2 separate regions of the Homo sapiens genome follow, and region 2 is linked to region 1. The links come from fine-mapping of genetic effects on plasma protein levels. Region 1 holds a variant in brackets. A gene starts in the other region. All regions are shown on their forward strands. Region 1 overlaps CPMER (cytoplasmic mesoderm regulator). Region 2 holds the start of CNTN5 (contactin 5).

The links. PIP is the posterior inclusion probability: the model's chance that the variant is causal. Protein levels are from antibody-based Olink assays in UK Biobank. Linkage for the fine-mapping came from a reference panel and not from the study's own genotypes, which makes the PIPs less certain.
Region 2: CNTN5 starts here. The variant in region 1 is fine-mapped to the plasma level of the CNTN5 protein (UK Biobank, PIP above 0.99).

What each region holds. Positions count from the first base shown.
Region 1 is chr22:27,684,626-27,688,625 of GRCh38, forward strand. The region is part of intron 4 of CPMER (cytoplasmic mesoderm regulator); the gene reads right to left. Among named protein-coding and RNA genes, the nearest start is that of CPMER, 28 kb to the right of the region's middle. The variant G/A (reference allele first, on the strand shown) is at 2,093.
Region 2 is chr11:99,018,146-99,022,674 of GRCh38, forward strand. It overlaps CNTN5 (contactin 5), which reads left to right and starts at 2,804. Exons shown (of 25, transcript NM_014361.4): 1 at 2,804-3,125.

The sequences.
Region 1 (4,000 bases):
TATTACTGTATATAAATTATGTCTCCATGAAAAGAAAAAATATCTTTAGAAATCTTAGATTGTCTTAGGGAGATACAATGCCTGGAAAGTTCGAATCCTGCAGGATCCCTGAGCGCATCCTTACCCCATGGGACCCTAATGGGGTTTCAGAGGCCTCCAAAGAGGGAGGATGCTGGGCAGGGGGCTCTCATTCATAAACCCCTTCCCCAGATTGGTATCCTTTATAAGAGTTCTAGGGGCCGAGAAAGAGTTTAGCAACAACAGCAATGGAAAGGTCAACTCTGTCTGTTTCCTGCTTTTAGGAATGTGAAAATTCTTGAGAAAAGTAGGAGGCAGAACCCGTGGGAAGAGGGTACACGACGGGGATGGGGTATGTGGGAATGAATGAGTGTGGCGGTCTCGCAACCCTAATTCCCACTTCAGTCAGGGAGGCTCCCATGGCCTGTATTTTGCACGTAGGGTTTCTGAGCAATAAGAATTCACTCATGGAAAGCTTCGGCTCCGTTTCAAAAGTGTACACACCACTGCCTTTTAGTCTTGGCTTTTAGCCCAAAACAAGCAGTACAGTGGACAGTTAAAGGCATCACGCTGTGGAGCCAGAAGGCCAGGTTCAAATCCCAGCCCCAGCTGTGTGAATTTGGGGAAATCTCTTCATTTCTCTGTGCCTCAGTTTTCTCCTCTGTAAAAATGGGGATAATGATAGGACCCAACTCGTGGGTTGTTATAAGAATAAGAAGCATTAACTCTTAGGAAGCACGCTGAACCAGATTGAGCATCTCCTGTTTGTTTGGGGTCTGTCTAGGATGATACCTTCATTCATTCCTTCAACAAGCTTGCGTGATGGAGACGCCAGGCCTTGGGAAAGAAGGCAGCCAGGCCAAGTCATGACAAACATCCCTCTTTCCCTACCCCAGGTCACACCTGTCTCTCACCTTCCGGCAACCCCACCTTCAAGTCCTTCCTGCTCCACCAGGCAGGTCCCTGGAGCTCGGCCTGACAAAGGCTGTTGGCTTATCAGGACACCCAGGCCACAATCCAGAACTGGCTCTGACCCAGGAGCCACCAGTGTCTGATGTCCCCATGTCAAAAAGAGAGGCCACACTGTCCCAGACCTGGACTGGCTGTCCTCAGTGCCCTGTTGCACAGAGCCCAGACTCCCTCTCCAAGAGGCGGGATCCTACTCCTTGACCCCCTACATCTGGCGGAGATCCCGCTCTGGGGCATACAGGCAACCTGAGGCTCTGTCCCCATAGATGTTCACCTGTTCATCCAACCTGGTGGCTTCTTGCCCCGGGAAGCCCTCACCTTCAGTTAGTCACTCACTTAACGACTATTTTTAGGACAACTACTTTGTGCTAAGCTGAGTCCCCGAGGCTGGAGACATAAGGAACAAGAGAGACACAGTCTGCCCTCATGTAGTTCACATCTAGTTGAAGAAACAAGCAATAAACAGGTAGAGATCATTTCACCTGGAGATCAGTTCAAAGAAGAAAATAACTCAACAGACTGGAAGCAGGTGTGGTCAGGGAAGACTTCCTGGAGGAGGTGACAATTACACAGAAACCTGATAGATAAGAAGGAGCTGGACACAGGAGGATATGGGTGAAGGGCATTTCAGGCAAAGGCAAAGGCAAAGCCATGTGCAAAGGCCAGGAGGTGGGAAAAAATTAGAGAAAGAGGAAAAAGGAGCAGAGTAAGCTAGGAAGCCAGTGGTCAGAGGTGAGAATGGCCAGTGCCCACCAAGCCTCAGCACACCTCTGTCCTGCTGGCTCAGTTGAAACCTTCCCTTGATCTAGAAATATACAGCTACCACTGATCACTGACAGAGCCTGGTGGCTACCGGAGCTGCAGAGGTCTATGCTCAAATCCAGCCTCAACCTCCTCCCAGCTGAGTAACCTCAGGCCAGGGCATGACCCTCCTGGGCCTCAGTTTTCTCCTTGGAGAATGGGGGCCTAGTGGGGTTGCTGCAAGTGTCAGGGAATGCATGTAATGGACTTAACTCAGTGCCTGGCACGCAGTGAACGATAGGCCGACGTTGGCCAAGCCAGAAAATCCGTCTGCCCTGACGTCAGGCAGGGCCTAATTATAGAC[G/A]CCCAGAGGTCACTTTCAGCCTCTTGTGACTCAGAGGCAGTGCCAGGCAGCAGACAGTGGGAGGGACAAAGAATCAGGCCGGCTCGACCAATGCAGAGCCACAGGGGAGTGCCTCCGTTTCCCTGTCTATTAACCAGAGATATCAGTGGGACCTGCCTCCCAGGGCTATGAGAAGACTCCAAGTTGGGCCTAGTACTTCATAGGAGCTCTGTCAACCTCCACAGTCCACAACTGCACGCACAAATGGAAAAATCGTTGTAATTTAGATAAATTTTCCCTTGAGGCTTTCTTTCTTTTATTCAACAAATATATGCTGAGCCCTTTGGTGCATCTGGCTCTGTGTTAAATACAGTGTGTACAAAAAATGCCCGCGACAGCCACTGAGGGTTTACAGAGCCAATGAAGAGAGTCAGCAAGGTTACAGGGGCATATTTAATGTGCTCAAAGAACAAACTAGAGGTTCCAGAAAGAACCATTCTTCTTTGTTCTTCCACTGGTTTGCTTATTCAGCCTCACAGCAGCCAGGCCTTGTCCCACAGGCCTTGGTGTCTGAAAATTTGCTGGGGCAAGTGGAGAATCCTTTACCCCGTCCCTGCATGTGGGACCCTCTGGTGTGACCCTGGCCTCCAAGAGGACCGTGTTCACCTTGAGATCTGAGTTCAAGGCCTGGGTCTGCTCCTGCCTTGCTGTGAGAACTTAGGCAAGGCATGGAGCCATGCTGTGCCTCAGTTTCCTCACCTGTGCATGACATGAGTGATGGTAATAATGAAAATGCCCTGTTGGGGCTATTTAGGGGTTAGATGTGATCACAGGGACGGAGTGCTCTGTGTCCAGTGCTCCAACGGGAATCATTGCTCTGTGTCCGGCACTCCAACGGGAATCATTGCTCTGTGTCCAGTGCTCCAACGGGAATCATTGTCGTTACCCTCTGTCTAGGGCAGGGCCGTCCCATTTTTTGGCTCCCTGGGCCACATTAAAAGAAAAAAATTGTCTCGAGCCACACATAAAATACACTAACACTAATGATGGCTGATGAGCTAAAAAAAAAAATTTGCAAAAAAAAACTCATAATATTTTAAGAAAGTTTACAAATTTGTGTTGGGCCTCATTCAAAGCCATCCTGGGCTGCACGCGACCTGCAGGCACCAGGTTGGACTAACTTGGTCTAGGGAATGATGCAGCCTCCAGCACCAACATCGCCCCTGGCTCAAGGAAAGGAGACATACCCTGTACACACCCCCAGCTCCAACCCACTCTTGGGTCACTACCCAACTCTTGAGTCATTTCCAGGTCACCCCTTGGAAATGAGGGTGCTGGACTAAGTAGAGGTGACCACCACGGATTCTTGCTTTCCTTCCAGAGTTTTTCTTGGGCAGCAGTTGATCATGCATGGACTACATTTCCCAGGTTCCTTTGCATCTAGGTAGGGCCATGTGACTAACTCTGACCAAAAGACTGTGAGAAAAAGTGATGTGCATCACTTCAGGGCTGAAATGATTAACAAGCAGGTATGTCTCCTCGGTCTCTCTTTCCCCACCTGCCTGCTGAATGGAACAGAGTTCAAAGTAAGTGTTGAAAATGGTAGAGCCACAAGATAGAAGGAGCCTGAGTGCCTGAGTCACCGCATGGAGGCAGATTGCCCAACCAGAAATGCCAGCAGTGGGTTGTAACATTAGTGAGAAATAAACTTATACTGTGTTAAACCACTGAAGTGACAATTGCATCTGTTACAGCAGCTGGCATTGCCTTCCTTAACTATCACATATACATTATACCTTTTTTTCAGTTGTATATGCATTATCTCATTTAACACTCAGCAAATTTCTAACACCAATGTGAGGTACTGATCTTTTGAGCATTTAATTTGGGCCAAGCACTGGGCTAAGTCTTTTGCATACATTTTCTTGT
Region 2 (4,529 bases), not on the chromosome of region 1:
AGTAGAAAATCTTGGTCATGGTATGTGAAAAGATTTGATGTTTACTTGGAAAACACAAGGTAGTTTGTTTCTTTTTAGTGGAACTCTAACAAGGAGTTTTGTTTGTTTGTTTCTTATTTTAAGCACTGTTGTTTCTCTAATTCCAGACATTGACCTGCTTAAACCTGAACACTGTGGATATAAAAGGATACAGAAGTGTACCTGATCTATAGAGCCCTTACTCTCCAAGCAGAAAATTGTAAAAATATACAGTACATAAGTTAACTCCATAACAGCAAAATTCTAAAGAAAGATGAGTCAGATAGACTAACAGTTTGTCTGTTACATATATAGATATTAATAGGGAATATATAATTGTATATTATTACAAATTAGAACATTAAAAGTCATAAAAGACATGAGAATAAATATAGTCACTCTTTCTGGGTCCTGAATGAAGTGTAGCCAGGTAACCTAGTCACCCCCAAATAATGATTGAAGTCAACATTTTAAATTTGAACTGACAGAAATAGACCTTACTATTTTTAATTAAACAGATTCAACGTTTCCTTTCTCTCCCTCTAAAGCATCAGATAACTTCGCAAGGAAAAGTGCTATTACATTATCTACTTGTTTCAAAAATATATTCACACCATAGTCTTGTGATAATATTGCTCTCTTTATAAAAAGTAGAAACATTAAAAGCTTTTATTTAGTTCTTGCTTAAGAAAGGAGAAATATTTAGTCCATTTACATCATGTAAAAGGTAAATTTTCTTGTTCATGTTAATGGTAGGAGGGCACCATGAATCATGTGACCGATAGCATTTCCTTCTTTACATTGGCTGCTAACAAAGTTAATGGCAGACCTAGCACCATTTGTAACAAAAACATCAATGCAGTTTTCTCTATAAACCTCATTTCTGGCTTCATCTTATCTCTCCTCCTATCACTTTACCGTTTGTCTTGATCTCACTGACCTACATTTTTTATTCATTTTTTTAAACTGAATAGATTTTTATAAGCCAACTTACATCCTTTCTAGGGCAAAGCTAGTTGAAAGAAATTATGTGACATAATGACTCAAAATGCCCAAATTATCGGATCATGGGTAATATAGAATGGTGTTCTAAGAAGGGAAGAGAACTTTCAGAAAGCTTTCTACACTCCCGATCCCTCTTTCAGGCTGCATGTGCTCAATTATACACTTTTAAAGGCAAAAACCTCATCGAACAATAAAAAGAATGCGTTAGAGCTCCTACACTTTGAATTTATTTTGTGATGTATTTAATGTGGTTATAAAAGTCCTGGTAGTTCTCTCTGTGAACCGACAGCCTGACAGAGGAGAAGAGCCAGTGGGGCAGAGAAAAAGCCACAGAAGGGGAATCTCCACAACGATCCCTCAGTTAACACATAAAGAAGATAACCTAGTTACTGGAAAGCAGGAACACGAATATAAAAAGTATGGAAGAGTGGAGAAGTATTAAATGCACACAAATTTGTCTTTGCTACAGAACAAGCAATCAGCCTAGATCCTGAGGATAGCGATTAAAAGCAGAGACTGGGTGTTTGTACATCATTGGATGAATGAGAAGCAGCCAAGAAACAGGAAAAGACTAATTTTAATTACCAGAAAAACTGCAAGAGAAAGAACACAGGGCTAGTGGTAGACGGCTTCCAGCTACAGGCTGCCTGGCACTGTACTCTCCTTGCCAATTAGAGCCAGTCAGACCCCATCGGGGGATTCAGTGAGCAGAAGAATCAGCGTCAGTCCAGGGTCAGGCTGCTCTCAAACACACATGAAAAACGGACACCAGCGGACACGGGGTGCGACCCTAGACTCCCATGCAGTTTCTTATACAGACACAGAGATAGAAAGCAGTACGTGGGATTTCCTTTCCATTAAATACAGGTGCAAACCACATTCTCTATGGAAATATATTGCAAAGGAAATGTTATATAATTTATTTAACAAATACCCAATTACCATCAGCCCAATCGTGGGAATTGGAAAACGACTCAAAGACTGAGAGGAAAAAAAAAAAAAAAGTAGAGAGGAGGACTGGCAGAACAATGGCACTAAAGCTGCCACACTGTGGATTTACTACCTGTGTTATTTTTCCAATTACAGCCATTGTAATATAAAAATTCCGAAAAAAAGGTTGCTGAGACCATTCCTTCGCTTTTTTTTAGAACTGAGTCAACACCCCAAATCAAAGAGAAATATAAACAGGCAGAGCCTGATAGTCCTTAGATGAAACGCGTAAGTGCAGAAACAAAAGAGAAGTGCTTCCCATTCAGGACTTAAGAAAATTCTGCAAAGTGAAAAAGTCCACTCTCAAACCGACCTAAGTGAACGCGTCAGTCTGTGCTGCTGCTGTCAGAGGTGTGAGCCGGGGACTACAGGAATCAGAGTGAAGACAGGAGCGGAGGAAGGGACTCTCGCCTGGATCTCCCGTGCCGACTCCAGCCAGCACGTTTGCTTTGTAATCTATGAATGTTAAATACGGAGGGGTTGCAGAGCAGAAACGCTCGGGGAAGGGGGGCAGGTCCTCTGTACTTAGCAGGGAAGGAAAATGCCGGTTGACTAGTGAGACGAGTGGAGAAACACAGAGCACCCTCCGGGAGGCGCACAGTTCGTTAAGCCCAGGGACATGCTCAATGAACCTTTGCAGCAAGAGGCAGTGAGGCGCTGGACGCGGGCGCCGGTGACAGCGCGGGCGGCCGGGGAGGGGCGAGGGGCCGCCCCGGGAGGACACAGCCAGTCAGAGGCGCGGGGCGCAGGGCGCGCGGACGCATTGGAGGAAAACACGCGAGCCCCAAACACACCAGCCGCAGGAGGCGCCGCACCTACTTCCCAATATAACCAACTACGGCGTGGGGGAGCGGAACTGCGAGAAGGCGGCAGCCAAAGTGCCATTAAAGCTCGGGGCGGAGAGGATGCGTTACCTGGGTCCCGTCTGCTGCGAGAGGCAGGGCAAGCTGGAGGATTCCCTCTGAATGATTAAGAACTCCGCAATTCGCCTCTGCCACAGGCTGCAAAGGACCCGAGGAACCGCTCTCTCTGAACTGTGCTGATGGGCAGGAGGATGGGAGACAGGAATTGAGAGTCACAGAGGAAGGACAGTGGAGTCTGGCATCTTATTGGTAAGTGGCTGACATTCCTTTGCCAGTGACTGCGTTCTGTGATTGTGCACTTCATCTCCCAGCCACTTAGGATTTTTGACACACTCTGTTCTGCAAAGCCATCCTTTCTTGCCATGTTGCCAGAATGTAAAAACTGTAAGATGAAGCTTTTTTAAATAAAGGAAACAAAACACGACTTTATTTCCTGCTGGGATTTTATGGCAAAAAGTTGAAACAAGAGTAAATATAACCTATTTGTATATCTCCTAATGCCACCCAAAATAAGAGTAAGCAATTCCTACACGCAAATTGCAAATTGTAAGGCAATAAATGCCAGGATAAAGTGAGGATGTTTCTACAAAAGAAACTAAATGTTTGGAAAATAGGATGCCGTTCTCAGGTACTGAATGTATGCCTTATGTTTGAGCAATGAGTTTCCGAGACTAAATAATTGGGCATCTGGCATTGCAATAACTTGTTAAAATTCAGTAGGGATGCTCTATAAGTGGAGTTCTACAAAGTTCGTGAGACTGAGAAAAACTGTATCTTGGATTATGCTGAGCTTTTTTCTAAAGGTTGTATAGGATTGTGATAGATTAAAAAATTATGTTCAGACATCCTTACCATGTTTTGTAGGGAGATATACGGAAGAGAATATCAATTTGCACATACACAAACCTGAGAATTACTCTGATGACCTGAACAATAAGTTGTTTCAACTATATTTATTTGCGAAAGAACCAGAATCCACTAAATATTTTAGAATTATATTACTTTTAAATCTTAGAACTGTTCTCCCAAGAAAAATACAATTTCATGTGGTAATTTAAATGCAGGTGAGAAGCAAAAAACTTTTAAACTGTTGTATGTTCAATGCCTTACCTACATTTCATTCATTTGTTTCTTAATTTAAAAGAGAAAATCATTTAGAGGGTCAATACTTCTACTTTGATTCTCAATTACGACTGTGGAAATAAGGATGAAAGAAGTAGATGTTCATTAGAATACTAGCATTTAAAATTATAGACAAATAGTCAAATTTAAAAATTAATGCAGATATCATCGATTACTGTTGAATTGCAACAGAATTACAGAAGTACTTATGACCATTACAGGGAGCTTAAAGGAGTTCATTATGATTAATATTGTGACTCTCAGTATTTTAAAAAATAATGATTAGGTCATTAACTGTTTTTGAAAATGCCTGTAGTCAATTTTGAGCAATTCTCATGGTTGCTTGCATATTCTCCTATTTCATGCTCAAATTATTCTAAGTTAAGTGGGGACTAGTATGCTGAGTCTTAAACTTAACAGGCATAAGTTTACTCTGACTCTAATCGAAAAGAGGTATGAGTAAGAATATGTCATATAAAACTAATGATAACAAATTAAAGATATTACATAAAAAGATCATCTAAGTCCATT